Linked DNA regions of Homo sapiens. The protein of the gene in region 2 interacts with the protein of the main gene of each other region in a biochemical or structural test. Each region holds a gene or a part of one and is shown on either strand. Other genes may lie near its edges. The genes, in order: GRAP2, USP8, NFE2L2 and MAP3K7.

Region 1 (7,474 bases), on a different chromosome or scaffold from region 2:
GGGGAGGTGATGGAGGGAAGAGAGTCATTTTAAATGAGTCTTGCAGATATGCTTTATGGCACTTGCTCACATTACAAATAATGTGTAAAATGATACTGACCATCACGTGATGTTACTACAACCAAAAATCAGATAAACCAGTTATATTTTTAAAATAACTGCAAAAATGAAGTCATTAACTTTCACACGTAGTGATCAGGATAATCAAGTCTTCTGAAAGCTGCTGAGAGCCTGAAATAAACTTTTTCTCTCCTCATCTAATGCTGCCTCTGAGTGACATTTCCTTAGGGTTTTGCAGACATCGAACTCATTGTCGCATATCCTCACCGCAAGGAGGAAATGGCCATTCACACTTATTCCTATCTTACTTAGGAAGATTGAGGCCCACTAGTTTGTCTAAGGATGCAGATTCATCCACGGTTGCAGAGAATTTATGGATAGGAAAGAGACAATGAAGTTCTGGCCCTTTAGAGGCCAGAGATCCATCATGAGATTAGCTGCACCAGCAGGTAAGTACTCACCTGCAGGGAGGGGAAGCTAATACCCTAGCTCTGAAAGATTTGGACAAGTTGTTATCAAAATGATCGAGTGAAATAGAAATAAATGTCTTTACATTTAAACCTCTGTCCTAGGGTTTTTTTTTTTTTTTAAATCAACAGTGTAAGTACAGAATAAGAAAGATCTGGCTGGGCATGGTGGCTCATGCCTGTAATCCCAGCACTTTGCGAGGCCGAGGCAGGCGGATCACAATGTCAGGAGTTCAAGACCAGCCTGACCAACATGGTGAAACCCCGTCTCTACTAAAAATACAAAAATTAGCCGGGCGTGGTGGCGGGCGCCTGTAATCCCAGCTACTCGGGAGGCTGAGGCAGGAGAATCACTTGAACTCACGAGGCAGAGGTTGCAGTGAGCCGAGATTGCGCCACTGCACTCCAGCCTGGGCGACAGAGCGAGACTTGGTCTCAAAAAAAAAGAAAAAAAGAAAAGAAAAAGAAAGAAAGATCTGGCTTAGTAGTAGTGCATGGGAACTCATGGGTTTTAGTTGACCACAATTTCGATATGAGTCAGCAGTGTGACATGGGTGCCAAAAGGGCTCATGCAATCATGGGCCATATTAATAGAAGTATAGGCTACAGATCAAGGGAGGCAACTACCCCATGGTGTTCTGCATCCTCAGATCACTCCTGGAGAGCGTTGCTCCGTTCTGAGTCCCGTGACTTAGGGGAGGCCCTAAGCTAGAGTCCAATCAGAGGCGGGTGCTTAAAATAATGGCAGCACGCAAAACTGCCTCATAGGAGGAGTGGTTACAAGAACTAAGGATATTTATGCTTGAAAAAGAAGACTTTGAGGGACATGATTGGAAGCAGGGGAAGAGCAGGCTATCTGGGAAAAGATCTTGAGGTAATTTCCAGTGGCAGAAGTTTAGTTTCTGGATTCCCCATGGAAACTTCACATGGCTCTTCTGACTCTTTGTTGTTTGCAAAATAAACAGATCTTCAGCAAAGAAGACCCTGTTTCTCCTATGATTTCCTTGAAGTGTAAAGCTTTGTGGATGCATTGATGCCTGCTTGCTAAACCATCTCTCTCAGCCTACAGATGCACCTCCTTCAAGAAGTTCTTTCTAAAAATCTCCATCTTGAGCTGTTTTTTAATCTCCTCATCAGTTTTGCATTGTGGTACCATTTTTTTGTTTGTTTGTTTTTCCTAGTTTCCCAAATACACTGTTCATTCCTTAGGGGAAAGGACCCAATGTTTTTTTTGCTTTTATTTCCCAAAGTGTTCTCAGTACGTCTGCATACCTGTGAGCTAGGGACTGAGTGAATTTCTGCAGACAGTAGCCAAAAGATGAATTAAAGTAATCAGACAGGTAATTTTTACAGCATCTACAAGACGAAGCATTACAGCATGCTTTCTTGATAATAATAACACCTAATTGACCCTTCACTTTATGAAATAATATGATCTGACAAAGTAGGCTGTATCATAAATCTCCCTTACGTCTTACATTTAAAAATGGAAGTTGTGGATCTTTGCTGGAGAAAAAGTCTGCTCTCTAAAAGCTCCATCTTTTTTGTTCCAGGTATTGGGAATTTCTTTTCAGCTAGGGGATTCCTTGACTTCACACTTTCTCCTTCTTTGATTATTTGGATACTTACAGGGTACCAAGTGTCAACTCATAAAATCTTATAGTACCCGGTTTATAAAATGAATTAGTAGTCTATTTAAAAATATTGATCTAGAAAATAAAAATTCCACAAAATGAGTTTGTTTACACAAGAAAGCACCATGTTCTGCATTGTACAAATGAGATATTGTTGGGGGTAGCCACACATGAATCTTCAAAAGTCTCTTGTATAGTGGGTTAAAGAATGGCATAATTTCACTCGAGGACAGAGGAGTCGATGAGGCACAGTGAGTCATCTGTGAGGCTGAGCACAGAACACAGGATACGGGAGCCAAGCTCATGCTCTGTCACTCTCATCACTGGTCAGTATAACCTCCCACAGTCCAGTGACCTGACACGGTACCGAGCAGATGATACTGTCTGCAACAAGTTGATCTAACTCCACTTGCCAGCCTGAAGTTCACTTAGAAAATTTGAAGCACAAAAAGACTGAGACACAGGGGCCCAATTTCCTATCAACACCTGTTAATCACAAATATTAGCACTTAGCTTGGATGACTCCAAAGGCCAAGGGAGAGTGGTGATGTCCTCCCCTAGTCTCAGGACTTCTGCATTCACAGCTGCAGGCCCTCTTGTGAGTCTCCAACTTCCAAGAACAATTCTGGGACATTAAAGGATATAACTGTTCGTAATAAAAAATCAAGGAGAAGGTTTTGTACCCTTTGAAAGGCATAACCTCTTTAGAAGGATAAGGATCTATCAGCCCAAAATAAGCCCATCAGCATTATTTACTTCCATATGACTCCCTGAACTACCCAAGAGGGGTAATAAAATCTCATGGGATGTCTGCCCATTGCAGAGCACAGGGTTGGAGTATAATTGATGTGGACAGTCAGCCCTGCAGCAAGTGAGGCAGCCAGCGGCATGACACCCAAGCAGCCCACAAAGGCACTATTGAGATGTTTGTAGTTTCTAATGGGATTTGGACATTGCAAGGGAATCCGTTAAGAATTGGATGCCAGCTCTTATGCCCTACAGGGAAGGGTGAAGGGTCTTGCCATCTATGGCAGAAAAGGTCATTTCCCTCTGTTCCCAGACCCAGTGGGATTAGGTGGTTTTCTGCAGAAAATCAAAGGGCTTCAGAGAACACACAGTCTAACCTCTCACTTGACTAAGGAAGAAACTGAAGCTCAGGGAAGTTAGGTGACTTGTTTAAGATCACGTGGGTAGCTCTGGTAGAGCCAGAATTCAGCTTTCCAGAAGCCCATCGAGGGCTCCTGCATCTCCAGAATCCTGTGTTTGGACCAGTGTTGTGGAAGGGGCCCAGCCTACAGCGTGACAGGCTTGGTGCTACGTCCCGGCAGACATTAGCAAATTACCTTGAGCAAGTCCCGGAAACTCTCCAAGCCTTGCTTTTCCCACTCTGCAGAATGAGAGGTAAAATCTGTGGTCTGTCTACCTCAAAGATCATAGCCAGATCAAACAAGATAATGGCAACTCTTTTTATTTACTTATTTATTTTTTGAGACAGGATCTCACTCTGTTGCCCAGGCTGGAGTGTAGCGGTGTGAACACGGCTTACTGCAGCCTTGATCTCTTGGGCTCAAGGGATCCTCCTGCCTCAGCCTCTGGAGTAACTTGGACTACAGGTGCGGGCCACTGGGCCTGGCTAATTTTTTAAAAGAATATCTTGTAGAGATGGGGCCTCACCATGTTGCCCAGGCTGGTCTCAATCTCCTGCGCTCAAGCAATCCTCCCACCTTGTCCTCCCAAAGTCAATGAGCCTGTACGACAACTCTTTTTAAAGCTCCATCAGGATCAGTGTACAATAACTCTAGAGAAAGACAATTTTTCCTATTCAGGATATATGGGTGGACACCAGGTGATTTATGATGGATGGACACCAGAATTTCCCACGGAAATTCTGTACAAAGTTGCGTAGGATAAGTGCTAGGCATCGTTGGTTTTTTTTCCCCATTGGGGAGAGTTTTCATAGTTTTCGTTGACATCTTGAATGTGTCTGTGACACTCCCCTTCCCCCACCCACCCCACCACTGCCAGTAAGAACCTATGTGCTATGGATATCAGCGTATTTATGGTCAACTTAAAGTACTGATATAAGGTATTAGATTTAGACAATTTTCTTAGTTGTCTCAATGTTTGGTTGAGATTCTCCTGTTATTCTTACCGATTTAATGATCTATATTTTCAAACAAATCTATTTAGCGGAGGAGAGCCTTTTCAGCTATCAGACTTTACATTTTGTTTTATAAAGGGTTAAACTGTGTGACCTATAAAATGATGAAGAGAAATTTCAAATTACAAGTCAGCCAGGCTTTCCACCCCACTTTGTACTTCCCTTGTAATATTTCCTAGTTATTTAGAAAGAGTTTCTTTAAAATCATATTTAACAAGAGAACTATCTACTTATTATTTACTGAGTTCCTACTGAGTTCTCAGCAGTTTGTTTCTAATATTTTCCCATAAAGCACTAGACAAAAAACACAAATCATGAACCATTTGTAGGCCGACACATTAAGCCCGTGGTTCTAGAAGGCTGGGGGGTGTGGAGAAAAACAAACGAAGAAGTATTATTCATGACCAATTGATCAATTAGGCTGCTTTTCATTAAAAAACATAAAAAGGCAGAACCAATTTGGCAATGACTGTGTTGGAAATGCAAAAAGAACCATTATTAATGCTGGATTTTTTTTTTCTTATTTATTTTTAGTTCTCTTTAGAAAATTACACTTGAGAGCTTTCTGTAATGGCCACTGAAGGAGTGGATAAGATTCAACTCAGCAGTCGAACCCTTTTGTAATGCTAATGAAGGAGCATGGACCAACACCTAGTTTATACAGCTTTTTCTCAATACAGTTTCAGAAGCCACAGGCTGACTTATGGAATATCTGAGTGTATGAGATAACCAACCAGGGAATTTACCTACTAACAACAGTCATCCATCGTCTCTTAAGGAAATCCACCATGGCCTTTTATAAATCTGACAATGGCTTATACTCTTGCGTTTTATGGTAAAATCTTATATAGTACAGAAATGTGAAAAATGAGAGGAAATTTCTCCCTCCTGATTATATCAAAATATCATCTTCCACCCCGAGGCTCTGAGGTCCCAGGTCTCATAACTCCCCGCTTGTATTGTTCCTTTCAGGGATTTTTTCCCCCCATTACTTCATAGTTCTCCTACTCTTTTCTGTTCCAAGTATTTTATGTTCAAGGTTTCTTGTACAGAGCCTTAAGCTATGTAAATGTAATAAGAGTACTTATCTGGGCTTAGTGGAATGCTGTTCTTATTCAGATGAATTAAACCTTAAATGTGTTTGGGTGGCAACCTCCCGGATTTTCAATAACTTCAAGTCTGAGTGTGTGTGAGGGCTACTTCCACTCAGCTCCACTTGTATCACTCCTCACTGCATGTGCCCATCATCAGAGAGAGTGCTCAGGAACCAGACAGCCTGGGTTCAAATCCTGGCTCCACCAGGTACTAGTTAAGTGACCTTGTGCAACGTACTAGACCTCTCCGTACCTCAGTTTCCTCATTGTGAAAAAAGGGTATTATTAGCACTTTCTTCATTGCACCATTAGAAGAAGTAGACGAGTTAGTACCTACAAAGTATTAGAACAATGCTTGGCAAATAACAATAATAACAGGCACTGTTTTAGGAACCTTAAATGTATAAATCGTTTACTCTTCAGAACAATCCCACGAGATAGGCACCATTAGTAATCCCATTTTATAGCTTAAGAAACTGAAGCACAAAAAGAATAACTCGTCCCAGTTCATTCGCTTAGTAAGTGAAAGACTGGGCTCACACCGAGGCTGTCTTGGCTCCACAGCAAGCACTCAATAAACATTACCTACTATTATTATTATTACCTGAACTTATGCACTCAATAAATATTTCCAGCCACTATTGCTGCTGATAATGATGAATTTGCATGTCGAGTCCATCTTCAAAGCGTATTAAAAATATATATGAACTCCAATGAAATAATCAATTTAGGCAAAGATTATTACCTAAAGTCACCGGGTGAGAGTTTGTTGGGAAATAGGATATTGCCACCATGCCAAAGTGTTTATGAGATACACTTTGAGATACCCCCTGAGAGTACTCGCTAATTGCAAAGGGTGAAAAAGTGCCTGTACAACAAGAGATCCTCTGAGCAAGATCACTACCTCAAGCCCTGATCAAACTTGGCATCATGCACAGTGGAACAACCTGGCATTCTGTACCTCCTGATAAGATGCAATATGGAGCACCCAGTGGCACCTTGCAAAAAACGTTCAATCAAAATCAAATCATGCTTTTAGTCCTAACTTGGAGCTTATGAGAAATAAAGTGGGTAGAGGAACAAATTAACCATGAGGCAACAACGAATTCAGAAAGTGGGACCTGGTACAAGAGAACTGGCGTAATCTTTAAAAACATCCAATGTTGAAGAAAGAAGCATGAGACCCAACTGCAAAATATGTTCTTATTTTTAAAAATTAGATTCTTTTTTTAAAAAATGGTATAGAAGACATTTGGGGGACAAATGGGGAAGGTTAAATCTGCACTAGCTATCAGATGATATTAAGGACTTACTGTTTATCCTCTTAGGCCTAATGATGGAATTGTGGTTAGATAGAGGAATGCCTTTATTCTTAGATGAGTACTGAATTATTTAGGAGTGAAGTATTATTTTATCTGCAACTTACAAGTAATTCAGAAAGAAATAGGTATAGATGGAGCAAATACGGCAAAGAGTTAGCAATTGTTGAACCTAGGTAGTGAGTACTAATATTTCAACTTTTCTTTATGTTTTATGTTCAGTTATTTTCTCACTATCTTTTCTTTTCTTTTCTTTTTTCCTCTTTTTGAGACAGGATCTTGCTCTGTCGACCAGGCTGGAGTGCAGTGGCACGATCTCAGCTCGCTGAAACATCTGCCTCCCGGGTTCAAGCAATTCTCGTGCCTCAGTCTCCCAAGTAGCTGGGATTACAGGCGCCTGCCATCATGCCCGGCTAATTTTTGTATTTTGGTAGAGACAGGGTTTCAACATGTTGGCCAGGCTTGTCTCCAACTCCTGACCTCAGATGATCTGCCTGCTTTGGCCGCCCAAGTGCTGGGATTACAGGTGTGAGCCACTGTGCCCGGCTGTTCTTCACTATCTCCTTAAGGTATGTCTTAACATTTTCTTTGGAGAGTATATAAGACTTTTATCATCATGCACTTCGTGATAGTTTCTTTTAATTCTCTAAAATTTTTGTTTATAAATACATATTTAAAAAGAAAACAATCTTTAAAAATTATTTACTGAATTCCTACTGACTCAAGTTTATTGAAACTT
Region 2 (7,474 bases):
AACTTCAGCCTTAGTCAAACAGCAGTGCTCCAAAAGTGAAATCCAAAAGTGTTGAAAATGAGTTAACAAAGAGAAAATGCAGCCGGGCGTGGTGGCTCAGGCCTGTAATCCTAGCACTTCGGGAGGCTGAGGCAGGTGGACTGCTTGAGGTCGGGAGTTTGAGACCAGCCTGGCCAACATGGTGAAACCTCATCTCTACTAAAAATACAAAAATTAGCCGGACGTGGTGGCGCACACCTGTAATCCCAGCTATTCAGGAGGCTGAGGCAGAAAAATCGCTTGAACCCAGGAGGTGAAGATTGCAGTGAGCGGAGTCTGGGCGACAGAGCAAGACTCTGTCTTTTAAAACAAAACAAAACAAAACAAAACAAAACAAAAAACCTTATGCTTCAAGAAGGATTGCAAGTGAAAAAAAAATAACTAAGTATATGCAAGAAAAATTAACATGCTTCTAACAACAAAAAATAAAAATTCTTAAGATGTGTAAACCTGACAAAGAACTTCAGCCTTAGTCAAACAGCAGTGCTCCAAAAGTGAAACCCAAAAGTGTTGAAAATGAGTTAACAAAGAGAAAATGCAGCCGTGCACAGTGGCTCACGCCTGTAATCCCAACACTTTGGGAGGCCAAGGCGGGCGGATCACGAGGTCAGGAGATCAAGACCATCCTGGCTAACACGGTGAAACCCCGTCTCTACTAAAAAGACAAAAAATTAGCCGGGCACGGTGGCGGGCACCTGTAGTCCCAGCTACTCAGGAGGCTGAGGCAGGAGAATGGCACGAACCTGGGAGGTGGAGCTTGCAGTGAGCTGAGATCGCGCCACTGCACTGCAGCCTGGGCAACAGAGACTCCATCTCAAAAAAAAATAAATAAATAAAGAGAAAATGTTCTTTCTCTGACATCCTTCTGCTCCTTTCTAAGACAAAGAGTAGGGATTTGATGACTGGAACCACAAAGTGAAGACTAAAAGGTAAAAAGTGAAAAATGAGGTTTGCAGTCATTCAAACTGGTCCTGATTTTAAGCAGGGATTCACACCAGCCACTCCTAAGGTCTTTGGCAATATTGAAAGGAAAGCAAAAGTTGTCTTTGTTGGTCACCCACCATCTCTCTCTATTTCTGCCCTTAGGCAGCAACAATACTCAACATAAGTATCTTCTCGCTGTCTTAAATCTCATAATCCACTCTACACTCGTTCTGTATAAGGTGCCACAAACAACTAAGTATTGATTAAATAACTTTTTTTTTTTTTGGAGACGGAGTCTCACTCTGTCGCCCAAGCTGGAGTGCAGTGGCATGAACTTGGCTCACTGCAACCTCCACTTCCCAGATTCAAGCAGCCTCAGCCTCCCAAGTAACTGAGATTACAGGCGCCCCGCCACCATGCCCCACTAATTTTTGTATTTTAGTAGAGACAGGGTTTCTCCATGTTGGCCAGGCTGGTCTCGAACTCCTGACCTCAGGTGATCCGCCCGCCTCGGCCTCCCAAAGTGGTGGGATTACAGGCGTGAGCCATCGTGCCCGGCCAATGAAATAACATTTTAAAGTAATCCTCAAGTATTAAGAAGGCTCAACCCTCTCAAGATTTAATCACTGCTAAAATGTATGGTATTTTCTGAGCAACTACTATGTCTCTAGCACTGTGCTAAATGCTTGAGGGCAGTGTTTTTAAAATCCATTAGAAGGTCATGATCAGCATTAAAAAAATAGCAAACATCAGACTATGTCACACATAGTAAGGTTAGGTACTGCTTCGTAAAATTGTTTCAGTTATGTACATGTGTATATGATATAACACTGGATGAAAATGTAAAATGTATTTCTTAATACAGGTGACAATTTTAAAAAAAGTATGAAAGTCTCACACTACAGCAATGTAACTCCAAGTATGGTCCAATGACCAGTGCTGATTGGGGAACTGTTTGTTATCAGTTTGTGATAAAATAAGAAGTTTGTGACAGAATGTAGATCAATTAAGCACACTGACCTTTTTAAAGTAGCAGCAAGACTTTCTCCATGCAAAAAGCAGTGCACTGACTGGGCGTGGTGCCTCACAGCTGTAATCCCAACACTCTGGGAGACTGAGGTGGGAGGACTGCTTGAGCCCAGGAGTTCAAGAACAGATATTTATGTTGAGTATTGTTGTTGCCTAAAGGGCAGAGATAGGGAGAAATGGTAGGTAGCCAACAAAGTGGGCAACAAAGTAAAGACAAAAAATTTTACAAAAAATTTAAAAATTAGCTGGGCGTAGTGGTGCACATCTGAGGTCTCAGCTACAAGAAGAAACAAACTTAAGTTCCATCTCTTCCATCCTTTATGGTCCCAGTTCTTGGAATTTGTTTCTTCATGTGAATCCTACAATGCTTGTGATCTATATCATTCCTTAAATACAGTAATGGGATCAACAGACAATTACTATAAGGCTTTAAAATCCTCATACACACGCAGTGCTCATGATGATGTGATGAGAGAGAGAACCTGGCCTTGAGGACAGAATTTAGCTAAGAACAGGGTAAGAAAGGAGGACATCTGGCTGGGCATGGTGGCTGACACCTGTAATCCCAGCACTTTGGGAGGCTGAGGCAGGCAGATCACCTGAGGTCAGAAGTTCAAGACCAGCCTGACCAATATGGAGAAACCCCGTCTCTACTAAAAATACCAAATTAGCTGGGCATGGTGGTGGACGCCTGTAATTCCACCTACTCAGGAGGCTGAGGCAGGAGAATCTCTTGAACCCAGGGGGCAGAGGTTGCAGTGAGCCAAGATCGCACCACTGCACTCCAGCCTGGGCAACAAGAGTGAAACTCCATCTCGGAAAAAATAGTAATAATAAGGAATATTACAGAAGTTATTGGGAAATAATCAATCGGATAGAGGGAAAATGTTGACATGTCTTTGGATCCCTGGCACCTATCTCAATAGTCCTCACATAGTCACCACTTTAATAAATGTTTCTCCCTGTCAGCTGAATTTAACTAAAAGGAAAAAAAAATGTTGACTAACAAGAATAACTAAATTATATTATGTAGGAGATGGAGTCACATTATGGAAGACTTTGGAAGCCATCCAGAATTCTTTATATTTGATTCAGCAGGCAATAAAAGCCAGTTCCTGATGGGAAAAATATTATCTCAAGATGGTCAAATTAGGGATATGTAAGTAAGATTGAAAGGAGATGAGAACAAGGGAATGATACTATGGAAAAGAGTAACTACAAGGTCACTGCAGAAAAGAACACAAAATGGTAGAAACATGCTTTGGTAACTGGTTGATCGAAACAGTATTTTCTCTTGCTTACACACACACACACACACACACACAGAGGCACACACACTGTACCCTGCAAAATATGAAGAGCAGTAGTGCTATTAACAAAAAAAGTAATACTGCAGTTTAAAACTGATCAGTTTACAGCAGCGTTTCTCAACCTTGCCATCACTCACATTTTGGACCAGATAAACATTTGTTGTGAGAGGCTGCTCTGTGCAATGTGCACTGCAGGATGTTTAGCAGCATCCCTAACCTCTACTAGACGCCAGTTTACTATCATCCTTCCCTTCCAGTTGTAACAACCAAAACTGTCTACAGTCATTGCCGAATGTGTCCTGGAAGGCAAAATTACCCCCAACAAGAACCACTGGTTTACAGCAAAGTAGGTAATTCGATGTGGAAAATGTTGAGTGTATGCCAAAGGAACATCTTAAGATGTAAATATTAACTAGAAATCAGTTATATGTGAGAGCAGACAGATATTAAATCTGTTTATCAACTAATAAGGCATCAATGTTGACTTTGATAATCCCTATTGTTTTGGAAGATAATTAAGTATTGACACCAAAATTATGTTATCTAGGATTTGGTGAACTGCTGGGCAACACAGTGAGACCTTATCACTACAAAAAAAAAATAAAAAAATAAAAAATTAGCAGGGCATGGTGGCATGCGCCTGTGGTCCCAGCTTCTCGGAAGGCTGAGGCCTTCCTTGAGCCTGGGAGGTTGAGCTTGCAATGAACCATGATTACACCATTGCACTCCAGCCTGAGCAATAGAGGGAGACCCTGTCTAATTGGGGGAGTCTTAGAATGCCATGAGAAAAAAAGAAAAGAAAAGAATAAACTAGCCCTAGTTCTTTATTTTTTTGAGATGACGTCTCACTCTGCTGTCCAGGCTGGAGAGCAGTGGCGCAATCTCGGCTCACCAAAACCTCCACCTCCCCGGTTCAAGCGATTCTCTTGCCTCAGCCTCCCAAGGAGCTGAACTAGCCCTAGTTCTAAAGAGTGACTGTCTAAACTGGCTTCAATTAGGTAAACAATAGATACCTACTATACACAAGGTGCAGTGTTGTGATACAGGGGATACTAAAAAAATACAACTCTTAATAAAGTTTCTGCCTCTTAAAATGAAAGTTAAGTACATAACGGTAACAAAGTAAAGTGTGGCTTAATGCTGTGATATAGGCACTTAGCAAACCAGGCCAATGTCTGTTTGTTTTATTAAGGACCATTCCCAGAAACTAACAAAAGGGTAACTGTTTTCCAGAATAGATGTCTATCTACATTTATAACTTTAATCCATTTCTTTTGTCTTCTACCTCATTAATTTTTTAACAGATGCAAAATCATTAAGTAGGGAGCCAGATCGTACTTAACATGCACCAAAAACATAGTTCTCAATCCCAGCTGTATGTTAGAATCAGTTACCTAGAGAACTTTAAAAAAATATTGATGCTCAGATCCCACTCCTAAACAATTAAATCAGAATCTCTATGGATGAGACATACACACAGGTATTTATTTTCTTATTTATATATTTAAAAAAATACAGAGTCTCACTATGTTGTCCAGGATAGTCTCAAACTCTTGGGCTCAAGTGATCCTCCTGCCTAGGTCTCCCAAAGTGCTGGGATTACAGGCATGAGCCAACCTCGCCTTGCCCACATAGGTATTTTTAAAAAGCTTCCCAAATGAATTCTAACACCAGTCAAGACTGGGAACCATCAATATAAGAATGAATATAAACATGCTGCTAGGAGCAACAAAATAATATGAAGGCAACAATTTGTTTCCAGCTGAAATCAGCATCTTAAATCATTCAACCTACCAAAATTTTAAAAAATCATTTTCATTTTTAAAACTCTGTAATTGAGAAATTAAAATAACACCTCCAAAAAAAAAAAAAAAAACACCTCCAGGATGCTTATGCCCATAACTCTTGTTCTGAAATTGGTATTATAATGTGTAATTATTTCATTTTACTCTATTAAAAAGACATGTGGGTTTACACCATTATTGGTATGTTTCAGAATTTAGTGTAGTAGTCCCCCCTTATCCATGGTTTCGCTTTCCATGGTTTCAGCTACTTGCAGTCAACCACAGTCCAAGAATATTAAATAAAAAATTCCAGAAATAAACAATTCATAAGTTTTAAATTGTGCACCACCTCACTTCGCCCAGTCTGTGACATGAATCATCCCTTTGTCCAGTGTATCCACACTGTAGATGCTACCTGCCTGTTAATCACTAAGTGGCCGTCTCAGTTACCAGACTGACTATAGCAGTATTACAGTGCTTGTGTTCAAGTAACCCTCATTTTACTTAATCATGGCTTCAAAGTGTAAAAGCAGAGATTCACGTATGTCAAAAAGAAGTTGTAAACTGCTTCCTTTAAGCAAAAAGGTGAAAGTTCTCAACCTAATAAGAAAAAAAACCAAAAACCTCATGCTGAGGTTGCTAAGATCTATGGTAAGATCTTTTATCTGCAAAATTATGAAGGAAAAAGAAATTTGTGCTAGTTTTGCTGTCACACCTCAAGTTGCACAAGTTATGGCCACAGGGCATAACTTTTATTACACTATATTGTTGTAATTATTCTATTTTATTATTAGTTATTGTTGTTAATCTCTTGTTACTAATTTATAAGTTAAACTTTATCATAAAAATGTATATATAGGGAAAACATAGTATATATAGGGTTCAGTACTATCTGTGGTTTCAGGCATTCATTGGAGGTCTTGAAACATATCCCCTGCAGATAAGAGGAAGACTGCTGCATTATTAAAAACTAAATTGTAGGCCCGGCGTGGTAGCTAACGCCTGTAATCCCAGCACTTTGGGAGGCCGAGGCAGGTGGATTGCCTGAGCTCAGGAGTTCGTGACCAGCCTGGGCAACACAGTGAAACCCCATCTCTACTAAAACACAAAAAATTAGCTGGGCGTGGCGGCATATGCCTGTGATCCCAGCTACTTGGGAGGCTGAGGCAGGAGAATTGCTTGAACCCATCAGACGGAGGGTGCAGTGAGCCGAGATCATGCCACTGCATCCAGCCTAGGTGACAGAGCAAGACTCCCTCTCAAAAACAAACAAACAAAAAACTAAATTGTAATGTGTTAGTCAAAAGAGACAAGGCTTAGTTAACCCTTATTCACTATACATGAGAACTGTTTTACTTGAATTAGTATGGTATTAGTCAGGTGTGCTGGCGTGTGCCTGCAGTCCTAGCTACTTGGGAGGCTGAGGCAGGAGGATCACTTGAGCCCAGGAAGCAGAGGTTACAGTGAGCCAAGGTCATGCCACTGCACTCCAGCCTGGGTGACAGAGCAAGACCTTGTCTCAGTTTAAAAAAAAAAAGGGCCAGGTATGGTGGCTCACGGCTATAATCCCAGCACTTTGGGAGGCTGAGGCGGGCAGATCACCTGAGGTCAGGAGTTCAAGACCAGCCTGGCCAACATGGCAAAACCCCATCTCTACTAAAATACAAAAATTAGCCGGGCATGGTGGCAGGTGCCTATAGTCCCAGCTACTCGGGAGGCTGAAGCAGAATTGCTTAAACCCAGGAGGCGGACATTTCAGTGAGCCGAGAACTCACCACTGCACTCCAGCCTAGAAGACAGAGCAAGACTCCGTCTCAAAAAAAAAAAAAAAAAAAAAATTAGTACGGCTATAAATGTAGAATTCCAAATAAGTTTAATATAATATTTCATCATTCAGTACTAATAAATTTAATATTATGGAACTGTTGCAGGCCTTACTTTCCATTTATTAATCATATGACTTTGAACAAATTCCGTAAATCACTCCCAATACCACCACCACTCTTCAGTTTACTTTCATCTGCAAAATGAAATAGGAACTATTTGTCTGCTTCTATAGGGTGACCATAGGTATCAAGTGAAAAAATATACAAAAACATGCTTTGAAAACTGTAATATGCCATTACAACATAAAGTATTACGGTTAAAGAAATTGGAAATGGGTCAGGCGCGGTGGCTCACGCCTGTAATTCCAGCACTTTCGGAGGTTGAGGCAGGTGGATCACAGGTCAAGAGATCAAGATCATCCTGGCCAACATGGTGAAACCCCATCTCTACTAAAAATACAAAAATTAGCTGGGCTTGGTGACATGCTACTCGGGAGGCTGAGGCAGGAGAATGGCGTGAACCCAGGAGGCAGAGGTTGCAGTGAGCTGAGATCGTACACTG
Region 3 (7,380 bases), on a different chromosome or scaffold from region 2:
CCCAGGGAACCAAGGATGCGGGTGTGTTTTGAAATTAATACACCAAATATTTTGAACACTGCTTTACTGGAGTTTGTTATTTTATTTACTTATTTATTTTTCGAGATGGAGTTTCGCTCTTGTTGCCCAGGCTGGAGTACAATGGCGCGATCTCGGCTCACTGCAACCTCCGCCTCCCGGATTCAAGCAATTCTCCTGCCTCAGCCTCCTGAGTAGCTAGCATTACAGGCATGCACCACCATGCCAAGCTAATTTTGTATTTTTAGTAGAGACAGGGTTTCTCCATGTTGGTCAGGCTGATCTCAAACTCCCGACCTCAGGTGATCCGCCCACCTTGGCCTCCCTGGGATTATAGGTGTGAGCCACCGCGCCTGGCCTATACTGGAGTTTAGTTTATCCACTGGGCAGGTTGCTCAAGTTCAAACTCCCTAAGCAGATATTCAGCGAGTATCTTACATAACTGGCACAAATGAGGTCATATCACGGTCAGAACCTCTGTATGCATTTATCCCTCCATCTACTTCATTGATAAAATGTCTGTGTTCGTGAAGTGTATTTTGATAAGGAGACTATCTCTCCATCGTCTAATAAAATGAAACTTATGCATGGTGTGATGAGGTTTTTTACTTTGTATGTAGCAACAAAGATATGTTATGGGAAAGACAGCTTCCTCATTCCCAGGGAAGTCATTTTCTTCTGAGAGTCTGAGTTTTATTAAATCACCAAGTATCATCTCCCTGTTTGTGCTCCCAATGTTGGTTAACAAACAAAGAGCAGCCAGGGGAAACCCTGCCTTTGATAGTCACCATACATACAGTATGCTGTTTTGGTTATCAATTGCTATGAAACAAACCACCCCCAAATTTAATAGCTGAAAGTGATTTATTATAATTTCTCACAGTTCTTGGTGTTGACTTAGCTTAGCCAGGGAGTCTTCTGCCGGTCTTGCTTACAGTCTCTTGTATGTGACTGCAGTCATATAGCAGCTGGAGCTGGAGTTCTTTGGGGGCTTGAATAGGTGGGCTCGAAGGTCCAAGATGGTTTCTTCATTCACATGTCTGGTGTGTTGGTTCACATAGTCTCTCTCTCTCCATTTAGAGTTTCATCTTCCATGACTTTTCCCATGGCCTCTCTTTCCATCAAGGTAGTCAGACCTCTTAGGATGATGGCTGACTTCCAAGAGTATAAAATTAAAAGCTGTCAGGGCTTTTTCAAGCTTAGGTTAAAACCTGGCATAATGTCACTTCTGGCCTCTTTCCATACCTTAAAGCAAGTTGCAGGGCCAGCCATGCTTGTTTCAATATGAGGGGACTAGACAAATGCCTCAATATCAGGAGAGGTGGTTTACTGGGTGCCATCTTTGGAAGCTTTCTATACTTTACACTGGACAAAGTAGAATTTCAACTACAATTCTAAAAGATTATGAATATTTTCTGGCTCAAACATGGAGAACAATTGAGAGGAAGTGACAGAGAGAGGAAGAAGCCTCAAAGTGATGGAGGATTTTGAAACAATCGGTACTTTCTTGCACCTTGCAACTTGGCAGATTGGAGCACAAAGGAGGTGGAACTAAGGGGTCAATGCATCACCATTATCCAGACTTCTTATACCCAGAAGACTTACTTGATGATACTTTTTTTTTAGACAGAGTCTCACTCTGTCGCCAGGCTGGAGTGCAGTGGCGTGATCTCGGCTCACTGCAACCTCCGCCTCCTGGGTTCAAGCAATTCTCCTGCCTCAGCCTCCCTGAGTAGCTGGGACTACAGGCGCATGCCACCACAACCAGCTAATTTTTGTATTTTTTAGTAGAGACAGGGTTTCACCACGTTGGCCAGGATGGTTTTGATCTCTTGACCTCGTGATCCGCCAGCCTCGGCCTCCCAAAGTGCTGGGATTATAGGCGTTAGCCAGAGCACCTGGCCAATGATGCTTATTTTTTATGAGCAATCTGGAGCAAGGTATCACAATTGACACATCTCAAGCATGTAGGGAAGGCCGTCTTCCCAAAGACAGCAAATGATTCAGGAATCAATGAAAAGGTACAAGAGTCAATAGAACATAAAACCAATTGGAGGGTATTTTTCCCAAATAGTAGCGAGGAGAGCCTGGCAGCAAAAAAGGATCCCATGGCAGCAAGACAGGAGAGAAAAACCAGCACCTCCTCTTTCTTGTTCTTTCTTGCTCCTCCAGAGCTTCTCAACATGCATTATCTGTGCCCTCCTAACACAATAGGCAGGTTTGGAGGGCAAAGCAAGGGCTCAGGCTCTCATATGAAGACAATCACATTCCAGAGTCTGCCAAGATTGGGCACCTCCTTGACGTGGGTGGTCTTGAGAATGGGGTTCCCTTTATTTGGCTAAACCAAATGCCAAACAGCTTTTCCTTAGTGTTTGTTTTTCTTAAACAAGTTCAAACTCTTATCATATTGCTCCCCTCCCTTTGAAAATATGTACTCTGCAGATGCCTGAAATAACACACTCTCAGCAAATTGCAGCATTGGAAAAGTGAAGGTTATTTCATTCAGTCTAAACTCAATGGAAATTTTGTGGCTTAACAAGGAAATACCAAATACTTTATAAACTCCTTTAGAGCAGTAACCATGTCATATGACTCTGGTATCTCCTACCTACTAGGCTCATTGTCTACCTTCTCTGATGTCGTAATTTTAATAAGTAACTTGAATTGTTAACAATTTACTCTTGTCTTTTTCTTGGACTCAGAAATGTTATTTTATTATTATGTCTCTGCATCTTTCATGTGAGGTCCTTTGCAAACAGTTTTCTCCTAACTTGTTTTCATTGTGCAGATCATGTTGCAGGGTTTTCACATAACAGCTGAAAGGAATTAATAGGAGTTAAAGAAGCTTGCTTCAATTACAAGTAATTAATTTAGGCTTCACTTATCTCAAGGAATATCTGAATATACAAATTTACACATAAATCCTGGGAGTGTCAAATTATGCAACCTAGAGAAAGTAAGCTCTGCAGCTTTTTGGGCGTTGATTGCTATAGTCAGGGGTGTGTGTGTGGTTTTTGAATGAAATAGCAAAACCACTGCCAGTATTATCTACTTCACCTGGTTTTGAATAATTCCAGGAAGCTAGAAACTGAAAACCAGTCTTGTATAGAGTTAGAAAGATTGTAAATGCAGAAGAGGAAGAAAAAAACAAAACTAAACCATTTATCTATCCTCTTTGAACCCTTATAAGAGTTCACAATATTCCTCGTTTCAAATACTTGAAGTCTTCTCTGGGCAATGATTAATTTTTAAATAATTGTTTTTAATGTAAGACATAAAACATACGCACTGCAGATTTAAAGCATACTTGGAAGTAACAAGGAGAAACATAAAAATCGTTGATTCCACAGCATTTAATATATTGGTAACCTTCAATTTTTTTCTAGGCACGTTTTTATAAAATGAGCCAATACTATACAAACGTTTTTGTAACTTTTTTTAATTTGTACTATTTTGTGAGTACGTGAAAAAGAAATTTGTAAAGAGTAAACGATTACAGCATGTTGTGGTATTACACACTGTTGAAGGGCGCCATCTGTGGCGTGGTGGCTGCGCTTTGGTGGGAAGAGGTTCTCTTGGGGTTCCCGTTTTTCTCCCAGCTCTGGGTGGGCAATACTGACCACTCTCCGACCTAAAGGGGCTTCTCCGTTTGCCTTTGACGACCTGAGCTTAGGAGAATGGAGACACGTGGGAGTTCAGAGGAGGGCGTTCAGGGTGACTGCGAACACGAGCTGCCGGAGCTGTCCACATCTCCCCTAGGCAGGGCCCACTGGCCCCAGCCCGGGAAGGGAGCAAGGGCGGGAGGGCAGTTGGCAGTGGCACGGTCTGGGTCCAAATCTTTAGCCCCCCCCACCCCGGCTGGCGCCATTCTCGGGCGGTAAAGTGAGATAAAAGCAGGGCAAGGTTCTGCAACTCCAAATCAGGGAGGCGCAGCTCCTACACCAACGCCTTTCCGGGGCTCCGGGTGTGTTTGTTCCAACTGTTTAAACTGTTTCAAAGCGTCCGAACTCCAGCGACCTTCGCAAACAACTCTTTATCTCGCGGGCGAGAGCGCTGCCCTTATTTGCGGGGGAGGGCAAACTGAACGCCGGCACCGGGGAGCTAACGGAGACCTCCTCTAGGTCCCCCGCCTGCTGGGACCCCAGCTGGCAGTCCCTTCCCGCCCCCGGACCGCGAGCTTCTTGCGTCAGCCCCGGCGCGGGTGGGGGATTTTCGGAAGCTCAGCCCGCGCGGCCGGCGGGGGAAGGAAGGGCCCGGACTCTTGCCCCGCCCTTGTGGGGCGGGAGGCGGAGCGGGGCAGGGGCCCGCCGGCGTGTAGCCGATTACCGAGTGCCGGGGAGCCCGGAGGAGCCGCCGACGCAGCCGCCACCGCCGCCGCCGCCGCCACCAGAGCCGCCCTGTCCGCGCCGCGCCTCGGCAGCCGGAACAGGGCCGCCGTCGGGGAGCCCCAACACACGGTCCACAGCTCATCATGATGGACTTGGAGCTGCCGCCGCCGGGACTCCCGTCCCAGCAGGTGCTGCCTCGGCCCTCTGGGCCCTGCGGTGGTGCCGGGACGGGGGCGGGGGAGCTAGGGAACCGCGGCCCGGGAGGGACAGCCGCAACCGGCTTCCCCCACGTCTGGCCAGAGCCAGGACCGCGGCGCTGGGTAGAGCCGCCGCGCTTGCGCCGGGGCAGGGCGGGGAGGGGCAGCGGGGACGCGGCCGGGTGATCCGACCGACCACGAGCCCGAGGGCGAACGGGTGGGAAGTTGCGGGAAGGTCTGGGGACTGAGCCCGCTCGCGTGGGCCTTGGGGGAGAATCCAGCCGCGTCCCCGGGCCCGAGAGCTGGGACTCCGGAGCCCCTAAGTTTGAGCGGCCCGGTGGGCGGCGGGGCAAGAGGGGGCGGACGCTGGCCGTCTGAGCCGGCGCGGCCCGGCCCTTCCGGGGCTGCGCGGCTCCCCCGCCTCGGTGCCGGCAAAAATGTGCCTAGTCACGGGGCCGCTCTCGGGGGAACTGAGGTCGCCTTCGGGCTGGGACCCGGAGCCCCTTCGCCGCGCCCCAAGACCTCCTTGAGTGCGGGCTGCGACGCGCTCACCCCGCTGGGCCGTCTGTGGGCGCGGCTTTGCGAAGTCATCCATCTCTCGGATCACTCTCTGGCAGCCTTGAGCTCTCTTGAAAGCCCAGCCCCGGGACGAGGGAGGAGCGCCTTAAGTGCCCAGCGGGCTCAGAAGCCCCGACGTGTGGCGGCTGAGCCGGGCCCCGCGCACTTTCTCGGCCGGGGAGGGGTTCGGGCTCGGGCACCCGGAGTTGGCCCCTCGTAACGCCGCGGGAAAGTGCGGGCGAGGGCAGTGGACTCTGAGGCCGGAGTCGGCGGCACCCGGGGCTTCTAGTTCGGACGCGGTGCCCCCTGGTGGCGCTCACCGCGCGCGTGGCCTTGGCTTCCGTGACAGCGCTCGGTTGGCCGTCACAGCAGCCCTCGGTTGGCCCTTTCCTGCTTTATAGCGTGCAAACCTCGCCGCGCCAGGGCCAAGGGACAGGTTGGAGCTGTTGATCTGTTGCGCAATTGCTATTTTCCCCAGAGCGGCTTTGTCTTTGGATTTAGCGTTTCAGAATTGCAATTCCAAAATGTGTAAGACGGGATATTCTCTTCTGTGCTGTCAAGGGTAAGAGTTGCGAGTGTAGATTAGAATTTCTGTTGCTTTTAGTCTGTTAGTAATTTTTTGCTTTCAGCTATTATTTCTCCCCTGAGTACTTTATATATGTTTCCTTTTCAGTTGAGAATTTGCCTCAATTTCTTAACATGTTCCCCCTCTTCTGCAGGGGCAGAGAGTGGAACGCTTGCGTTTCAAAACACTTGCTAATTTCTGTGAATTGTTATAAAAGTGAAAAGAAGTTTCTGCTCATCCTTTGTAGAAACTTTAAAAGTAGATATTTATATTTCTAACTTCTTTTGTAAATGAATTTTAGGAAAAAAATTGGAATTCAAGGAAATGTGTACTTGATGTACAGTAAATACGTTTATGCTGTTAAATGTAAAGTTTTCGGTTAATTCCAAAGATCTATTGTAAAGTTTTAAGTTATGGACAATGTATTAATTGTGCTTTTTTCCCCCTTTAAAGTTGTTTGTCTTGAACTTTTCCCCAGTCTTCATTGGGATTGTATTCTTCTGGTTCCAACTAGTGAAGAATTAAATTGTACCTTCCGATTTATTTAATAGCTGCTGTTCAAGAGTTATCTATAGGAATGCTTGTTTGACTGAAGGATATATGATAAAAATGAACTTTAGTTTTTCTGATTTCCGGAATTGTCTACAGCCCTCTATTATTTTTGAATTTTTCTTTCTTTGCTGTGTAATATAACATTCCTTATACAAAAATGCGTGAAACATATGTACCGCATTAAGTGTGTATTTTCCAATTACGTTTGATAAAAATAACTGCTTTTCTACCTTTGTAATCAGACATCGATTTGCATATTTGAAAACAGAAAAAGAACAAGAAAATTTAGAATTGATTTTGTTTATGATTCATATTAGATTGTTGTCATCCATAAAGATTTGAACAGAGTCAAACATTTTCTTGACCTTTTGTCAAAAAAAACTCTCCAGGTGTGAAGTGGTAGTAGGATATAGTTTTTCACCTTCTGTGCAGAGGATGTGTTGATAAACAGGGCAGTAAGGAGAGCCTTAGATTCAGTATCTCCATTAGGTGGAAGGAACCATCCATTACTCTTTTCAAGGGTGTCTTGGAGAGATAAAGCACTTTCCTAGATGAGGGATGAAGTTGATATTGAAATAGACCGATGAGATTATTTTTAAGTCAAACAAAAGAAAAATAGGACAGGCCTCTCATCTCCTGAATGAATGTTAAGCAAAGAACAACTTGACTTTTTAGATATGTGAAAAATCTCTTGAGAGGTTGTGGAAGCAGCATGTAGGAGGATAAATGCATAACTCACATCAGTCTTTTACGCATTAAAAATAACTTGGGCCATTTTGAAATCTTTCTTTCTTGCCCTGGGTTCTTATAAGCAATGTTGGGGGGAAAACTGACTCTGTCTTTAGGATTACCAGGAAAAGTTGAAAGCCAAATGCATCATTTTTCTTAATATTTGTTTTTATTGAGGATAAATCATGTTTAACAAAGCTGCATGAAAAAAAGGAACCCAACAAGTACATTTTTTTTTCTGGGAATTTCCTCTGTCCTGACTGAAGACATTTAAAGGGGGTTTTGTGTCAATATTTCCTCCTTAACTGTTCCTCAAGCCTGGGTTAACTTTTCAGTATGCAGGAAGAATTTGGCACTAAGATAATAATAGATAAGTTACTGGGCACGTCCCTGGGTGCCAGACATAATTGCTTCACATGCATAATTTTACAGT
Region 4 (7,474 bases), on a different chromosome or scaffold from region 2:
GAACATGAAAGAAACTTGAAGAGAGAAGACATTCAATACTCTAAAATACTTCAGCAAAAATAGTCAAACATCCGTAAACAACTTGTAACAAATCTTTATATGTTGTGTTGCTATGCGGTAAATATTCTTAACTGATTATTATTCAACTCAAAAAAGTGATTTTTATTGCTCACGAATACTTCCCTCTAGATTAGATAAAAGCTTGCTTTCTTTTCCTGGAGTCAAGAGTAAAATGTAATTAATGTAATTAGGGCTTACTCAGTGATTGTTTTTGAATTTCTTAGACTGGGGCATTCCAGCCACTTGCTTGGCTGTTTGCAATTTTCACCCAAAAAACGGTCAAAATAAATTGTAAAACCAGAACGAATAAGTTTGGCTCCTTGTTAACATTTTTATTTGCAGGATGGATGAGGAAACTGATGAAACTGGCTGTGGATTTTAATTATCCCTGGTATCTTTTTCTCCCATCTCCAAGGATCATCAGGACTTAAAAGCATGAAATTGACAACACAACTACTTAAAAACAGAGTAAGGCTGAACTGTACTCAATGTCCAGGGCAACTACAGTACTGAAAATCTCAAGGAACTTACTGTAAACAAACAAGCAACTGTTCAACAGCCTCTTGCATTTGGTACCATGACTAAAATCTACTATTTTCTTCCATTTACCTATCTGGATATTTTTATGAAATGACTACATGTAAAAACCATAATAAAATTTCCCTTAAATGTGTTATAATACAGCAAAACACATCAATGACTATAAATAAAATCTGAAATCTCGAATGCTAAATCCTAATGGAAACATCAAGCCTTAGCATTCACGCTTGGATATCTCGTGCTGAGATAAAAGGCCTCTTTAAAGTGACTAGGTCCCTTTCAGTGGAGTGACAGATGTACATACAAGCAACAATGCTATGGAGGAGTCATGCTTTATCCTAGTCTACAGTTATTTTCTCTGCCAATTTTATTTTACTATTACTATGCTGAATCCAATATCTGTTTCAGCTAGGTAATCAAATTTGGGAACAATTAACACTCCTTTTATTTAAATTAAATGACAGAAGACATTTATTTCCAGGAAGCTTTCTAAAATAGCTTTTGAAGAAGCTAAAAATAACAGTTTAGTATTCACCTGTATTGCTTGTATACACAAGGAATTCATTACAAAACTCAGTGGTAGGAGGAAAAAATAATGGAAGAAAAAGTTACCTGCTTTAGCATTTTAAAGAATAGTTTTGATAACTTCTTAGATCTTGCTTATCTGAAATAGAGCAAAAACTACAATACAGTCATGATAGAATTCTAATAATCACAGCAATTAATGCTTTCATTTTGAACTTTTTCTTCATAAAACATTAATGCTATAAAAATCAGACTGATGACATCCTTATTTAAAAGACATCTTGTACTGGTATCAAAATGTGACTTATTTTAACACCAACTGAAAAAATATAGAGTTTGTATAGTCTATTATTTCAGTGTCATTTTATTATTAAAGTTATTCTGAAGGTTTTGGTAGCAAAATTACTGTTAACAATATAAATACTCTGTAAGTGTTGAAATTCTCTTGAAAGTGTTGAAAGGCGGCAGGCATTCTAGAACGGGATTGTAAGGAAAATCAAATATTCCAATATCCAGGATAATTAGGACACTTGTTGAATTTATATTTGCTTCTTTAACTTCCTTCTGATTTGCCTGGTTTATTTCTCATTTGGTATCATAAAAAGAAATCTAAGTCCAAGCTTTTTTTAGCTGGAGTAATTACTTCCATTTTCCATTATTTTTCTTCATTTTTTTTTTTTCAAATACATGAGAAAACAATCCAAGAATCACTGCAGGAAGAAATGATCATTTAAGCTCAATCATGTTCTTTTGCCTTTTAATTTCATTTAAGAGATTAATATTAGAGTCATAAAAGCTTTACAGTTTCAACACACATACACACAATCACAGAATTAAAAATCTTTACTCCTTAAAAAAAAATGAGTTCCATTTTGTTCAATGTATCACAATCAAATTTTAGTCTAACAAAATCCGGTAAAACTGCTTTCATTAAATAGAGCAGCTGCCACTTACCTTTACATATTTTACGGATGGAACTGAGTTCAGTACTGATCCAAGGATGCTGGCATCAAAGCCCTTACACGGAACTATCCCTAAAGGTTCCGTATTTCCGTAATATACCACCAATCACTCTAAATTTATAATACCCTGTCTTTAACTTGGTATATACCATCTTTTGGGAAAAAAATTATTAATATTTTGAGATGAGATACAAGAATAAAGTCATTCTTGAGGTTCCACCTCTAATATGAAAAAATGGACGCTGTTTGCACATAGCAGCTAGTTTGATACCTCCTGTTCTGTTAGGCTAGCCTTCACACAATGAGCATGCATATACAGCCACAGTTCACTGCATCTGTTTTGAAGTTGCAAAGTGCTGCTCATTCAAGTCACAGATGCTACCATGTTATGCAATGAAACAGTAAAATTGTATGTCCACCATGAGAAAAGGAAAATAAACAATGAAAAAAATGCAGCAAATATAGGCAGTTGGCATTCAGAACACGCCAAAAAGCTAACACTCATGAATCGTCATTATAAGGTTTTCCTTTCCTTAAAAAAAAAGTCTTTCTTTGCATATTTCAAAATGTAACGGTCCCAGAGAATCATGAAGTGCCTTGTCGTTTCTGCTGCTGACTTCTGATGACCTCTAGTTGTTTTTTGCATTGCTGGTAGTAAGTAGAAAGGCTTTTGTTTTCATCTAAAAGCTTTTTATGTTCCTGTACCAGGCGAGATGTATTTTGCTGGTCCTTTTCATCCTGGTCCAGTTCTGCAACTAGTTCTTGCCTACAAACAAATACCACATAATATTACACATGATGGAAAAATTCATACCTTAGTAGCTGATGATGGAAGCTCAATTAATGAGAATTTTTATTCTTGGTTTATCATTTTGCATCTTAGGTACACTAATCAAATATAATTATGGGCTGGGATGGAACTCTCATCTACTTCTAGTGTAATCATACAAATAACATAATCCTTTTATTAAGTAACTGTACTTGGATAATTAGCGAAGCAGATAAAATGGTAAAATAAAAGTTTCAGAAAATTTCATTTTCTATCCTCTTTTTGTGTAGGAAGGATGAAAAAAGGCTGGGAAGGGTTCTATGTGGCTATGGGAAAATATCATGAAGTTTTTATCCTTCACATTCTACTTTTATACTGATTCACATTCTGAAGTCACAATCCTACTTAACTATAGCAGAGAGTGGTAAGCTAATAGCAAATTTGCAATCTAATTAAAATAAATGCTATCCAATTTAAAGCTTTTTCCCATTTTAAAGCAGTGAGAAAAATGACAAAGTACCACTTCTTTTAAAACACTTACATTTGCAAGCACTTTCAGGAAAGACCCTCATTCTTTTATAGTCTGATAAACTTATTTAAGTCCCTCTTATTTGGGAACTATTAAGTATTCCCGAAAAAGATGCATCTTTAGGCATTTCCTAAAGTGAGGTTACTGGATATAAATGAATAATTAATAAAAAGTCCTCAAGCAAAATAACTAACTAATACTACTTCTGAAAGTATTTAAAATTGATTAAAACTGTCATAGTTTTCACAGCCAACACCCTAATCCACCATTTGTTTTTTCCAGCATAGAATACTTCTTTCAAATGATTAAAGTATGGCAAAAGTATAGGTTAAATAAGTGAAATAAGAAATCAAGCTTTTTCAACATAAAAGTGCCAGCAGTTTGATAATTACTTCTACGATTTCCAAACTGTAGTATTTAATTTCCTATTTAGGCTTACCTTTCAAATACCAGGTTGGTTCCATTTAAATCACTGTATCAATAAATTATGATAAAACAATTTTTTCTCTCTTTTTTTTGAAGTACATACAGAAAGCTTTTCGCAAATTCAGAAAAAAACAACTTTCATTTATTTAGATTAAAATTAATGAAGGGAATCCTATTATCATACATATATAAAGTTGCCAAAATTTTTTCCTTATCACTTCATTTTAGTTACCACCAACAATTCAGTTACCTAAGTATAAAATTTCATGGAGGTCATGCTTAAGAAAACTGAAGATACATACATATTTAAGAACTGTGAATGCAGTAGTAAGGAAATTAGGCTGTGTTTCTTTAAAAAGGGAGGAAGGCAGTTTCTATAACTCCTCAGAAAAACACTCAGTTATGAAATACAGTCTTTTAATAAGTAATCCAATTCTAAACATACACCTGGAAAAAATGTATCTACAAAAATGTTTCTAAGATAAGGCACAACTGAATGTTAATAAATCAAATTATTTTATCTATTTACAAGAAAACAATAAATCTTTATAATAATAAGTCTAAACAGCTCTGAGAACATAAAACAACAAGTATAAAGCACCAGTTTATTTTCCATAGCACTAATATGATAGTCAAAAGGATTGAGTTTTGCATAAAAAATTTTTAGTAAAAGGGTGCTTAAAGCTTAAACAAGTTGAAAGTATACTTAATGACTAATTCTAAAAACTACGTTTTCATTGCACCTTATCATATTTTAAACTCAAAATACTAATGTATTTTTATTTTTATTCATAAAAAATAACTTACTTTCTCTGTAATAACAATGCAATTTCTGTTTGAACTTTCATATATTCTTGTGCCATTTTACAATGCTGTTCAAACACTGCCATAGATTCTTTGGAGTTTGGGCACGGTGCTAGAGGCTGAAAATAATCAGGAATGTTAAAACATAATTAAATCAAATTTCAATATCTAGCTAAGATGAGAGTCAAGACAGAGACTGTGATATATTTTTATAGCACTAAAGCAATGATCTTTTAAAAATAAGTGTTAAACCATGCCCTAGAAAATCTCAGTGTCCTTTTGTCAGAATTAACTCAGCATTTAAATCTATTCTTGCTGTTTTAACAGTCTGTTACAGAGAATCATGATTGTTGGAGTTGTAGTCTCTGGTATGACATTTCAGGCTGCAAACAGGCTCAAACTAAATGATGTTTATAGCCCTCATACTCATGAGGGGGCACTGAAGTATATTATTTACATTTTCAGTCACTATGAACATGAGAATGTATCACAAATGTATTAAATAGAAATAAGCTTATGAGTTTTGTTTTAATGCACTAAAATTAAAGAGTGAAAATGTAATGCTTAGCAGTACTAAAGAAAGATACTGGAGGATTTTAAGATGACTGAAAAGATAAGAATATGATTCTGCCAATTTAAAGTTTGATTAACTTAACCAAAAGAATTATTTTGATTTGATTCTAAAAAGTTTAAGGAGGCCAACTAAAAGGATAAATTAAGGAGTGACTATACAATGACAGGTAGCAACACAATTGTCAACTTAAACTCTCTAAGAAGAAAAAAGTCAACTTTCAATAAGAAAGTACTCCTTTACCTGTAGTTGGTGATCCAGTGTAAGATAAGCCATTGGGATGGAGTTATCTGATCCATTGGTATCTGGAATTCAAGCATGTATTTTATTGATTTTCTGTCACAAATAATTATAAACGAACAGCAAGAAAGCATGAATGAAATGCTTTTTTTCCCTAAAGTAAATAATATGTAAATTAAAAGTTACAGCTATTGGTAATTGAAGAGTCTATTTCTGAATTCTAAAGGTTAAAAAAAGGATATTCAATTATCAGATATTAGAATGCAATTATATTCTCATACCTATAATTTAAGTTGGCTATAAACTGAATAGAACACAATATATTAGAGCTTCTAAGCTCTTAATTAAAAACAAAAACAGTGATGAGACCTTTATATTTTAAATTCAGTCTTAATTGACCCTATCTAATCAAACTCCCCATCTCTTTTCTTTATCATGCTAAGTTTATTTTATAGAAGGCTATATCAACTCCGCTAATATCAATGTTCCTTAACAGGGAAAGGGAGAAAGCAGAGACACATTCTCTTCCAGTGGATCATTTTCAATTTATATAGATTATAATGTGACCTCCACCACTCATCCTGCCCTTCCCAGTAAGAATCACTGCAGAAAACGAGATGTTGGTGATGAGAGTATATTACAAATACGAACAGTAAGGAACCAAAATGAGGTTGAAACCTGTGGCTCAATGTCATGCCGAAAACAGTTAAGTTGATTAATTCAAACAATCAGTCAATTTTATAAAATTATTTGAATAGAATGCTTTTGTTTATATTTCAAAAGAGGTAAAACTGCCATACAACTTGACTGAGATGCGTGGGACAGTCTCTTCTCAACATTTATGGTTATGTAGAACAGTTCCAGAAGTAAACAGAGTAACTCTGAAGCAATACAGACTTTTCTACTTCAGAAGTAGTTGCTTTCCCACTGTTAGTAGACAAAAAAAGAGCTAAATGAGTGAGCTCTTCAGCCTTTTTCTGACGAATAACTCCTTGAAGGAGTGGTGTGGATAAAGGCAAGTCAGGAAGACAGCAGACGCACTGTATGCAATCCAAAAAAACTCAAGAAGGGTTGCTGGCTCAGTAATCTTCTAATTTATTGTCAACTGATAATCCAGGTGTTTTTTTTTCTTTTTGCTTTTGTTTTTGTTTTTTTAAAGCCACTGAGAACGTGCTCTCAAGAAACTCCAAAAGCTAATTAGCGAAATCAGACCAAATGAGCCAGTGCATGTGAGGAACACCATGCAAATCCTGGCGTATATTAAGCACTCAATACATGACGGTAGTTATCATTATTATTCATACTAAATGGAGAATTAGAAAGAACAATTTAAAATAGTATAGTATGAATTCCATATTGAAAAAGTAATGTTTATTAAATATTGCAGGGCAATACAGAAAAACAGTAGAGACTTAAGGCACTTACCCTTACCCTTAAGGCTCATATACAGTACTAACATAAATGTGTGTTTTTCTGAAGTGGCTAAACAAGAAATATACTTAATTTGTTATTTCTCTGACCAACTCTTCTCCCACCCCAACAGTGGTTTCAAACTACGCTCCCACATAAACACTGCTTTCCACAAAACTAAAACTGATTAAAAATGACTGATTTCCTCCTGATTTACTAGAAAAATTTAAGTGTCTTGAAAAAGTTTCAATTTAAGATTTCCATTCCTATTATTCTTTCTTAAATCACTGATACATTATATATCTCATTATATCAGCACCCTGTATCTGATATGTATTTTAGAATTAAGCTTAATACATCAGTGTTGCGTGGTATTCTGGGAGCAGAAAAAAAGTCCAAGGATTGTGTTATTCAAATAATTAAAGCCCTTGTATGGTGGGGAACTTAAGGTCCTTCATTGAATTTCATCTTCTCTCTAAAAAAAGAAGTGGGATTTCACTTTCTCACTTTACACTAAATTGATATTGAACTTCCAATCTCTACTAGCAATAATTGGTCACAGATCGGAAGATTATTTAATGAAAGTTTTTTGCGTGTGTGTGTGTGTGTGTGTGTGTGTGTGTTTCAATTGCTAATCA

What was found.
Region 1: the proteins of USP8 (region 2) and GRAP2 form a complex in vitro, tested with the Homo sapiens proteins (one study listed by BioGRID).
Region 3: the proteins of USP8 (region 2) and NFE2L2 form a complex in vitro, tested with the Homo sapiens proteins (one study listed by BioGRID).
Region 4: the proteins of USP8 (region 2) and MAP3K7 form a complex in vitro, tested with the Homo sapiens proteins (one study listed by BioGRID).

Annotation. Positions count from the first base shown.
Region 1 is NC_000022.11:39,903,917-39,911,390, reverse strand, and holds part of GRAP2 (GRB2-related adapter protein 2), read right to left. Parts: intron 1-7,474. UniProt on the Homo sapiens protein: Interacts with SLP-76 to regulate NF-AT activation. Binds to tyrosine-phosphorylated shc.
Region 2 is NC_000015.10:50,427,009-50,434,482, reverse strand, and holds part of USP8 (ubiquitin carboxyl-terminal hydrolase 8), read right to left. Parts: intron 1-7,474. UniProt on the Homo sapiens protein: Hydrolase that can remove conjugated ubiquitin from proteins and therefore plays an important regulatory role at the level of protein turnover by preventing degradation. Converts both 'Lys-48' an 'Lys-63'-linked ubiquitin chains.
Region 3 is NC_000002.12:177,261,686-177,269,065, reverse strand, and holds the start of NFE2L2 (nuclear factor erythroid 2-related factor 2), read left to right. Parts: upstream 1-4,338; 5' UTR 4,339-4,489; coding exon 4,490-4,534; intron 4,535-4,934; exon of another isoform or gene 4,935-5,663; intron 5,664-7,380.
Region 4 is NC_000006.12:90,513,829-90,521,302, forward strand, and holds part of MAP3K7 (mitogen-activated protein kinase kinase kinase 7), read right to left. Parts: intron 5,492-7,474; coding exon 5,430-5,491; intron 4,735-5,429; coding exon 4,619-4,734; intron 2,854-4,618; coding exon 2,673-2,853; 3' UTR 1-2,672. UniProt on the Homo sapiens protein: Serine/threonine kinase which acts as an essential component of the MAP kinase signal transduction pathway. Plays an important role in the cascades of cellular responses evoked by changes in the environment.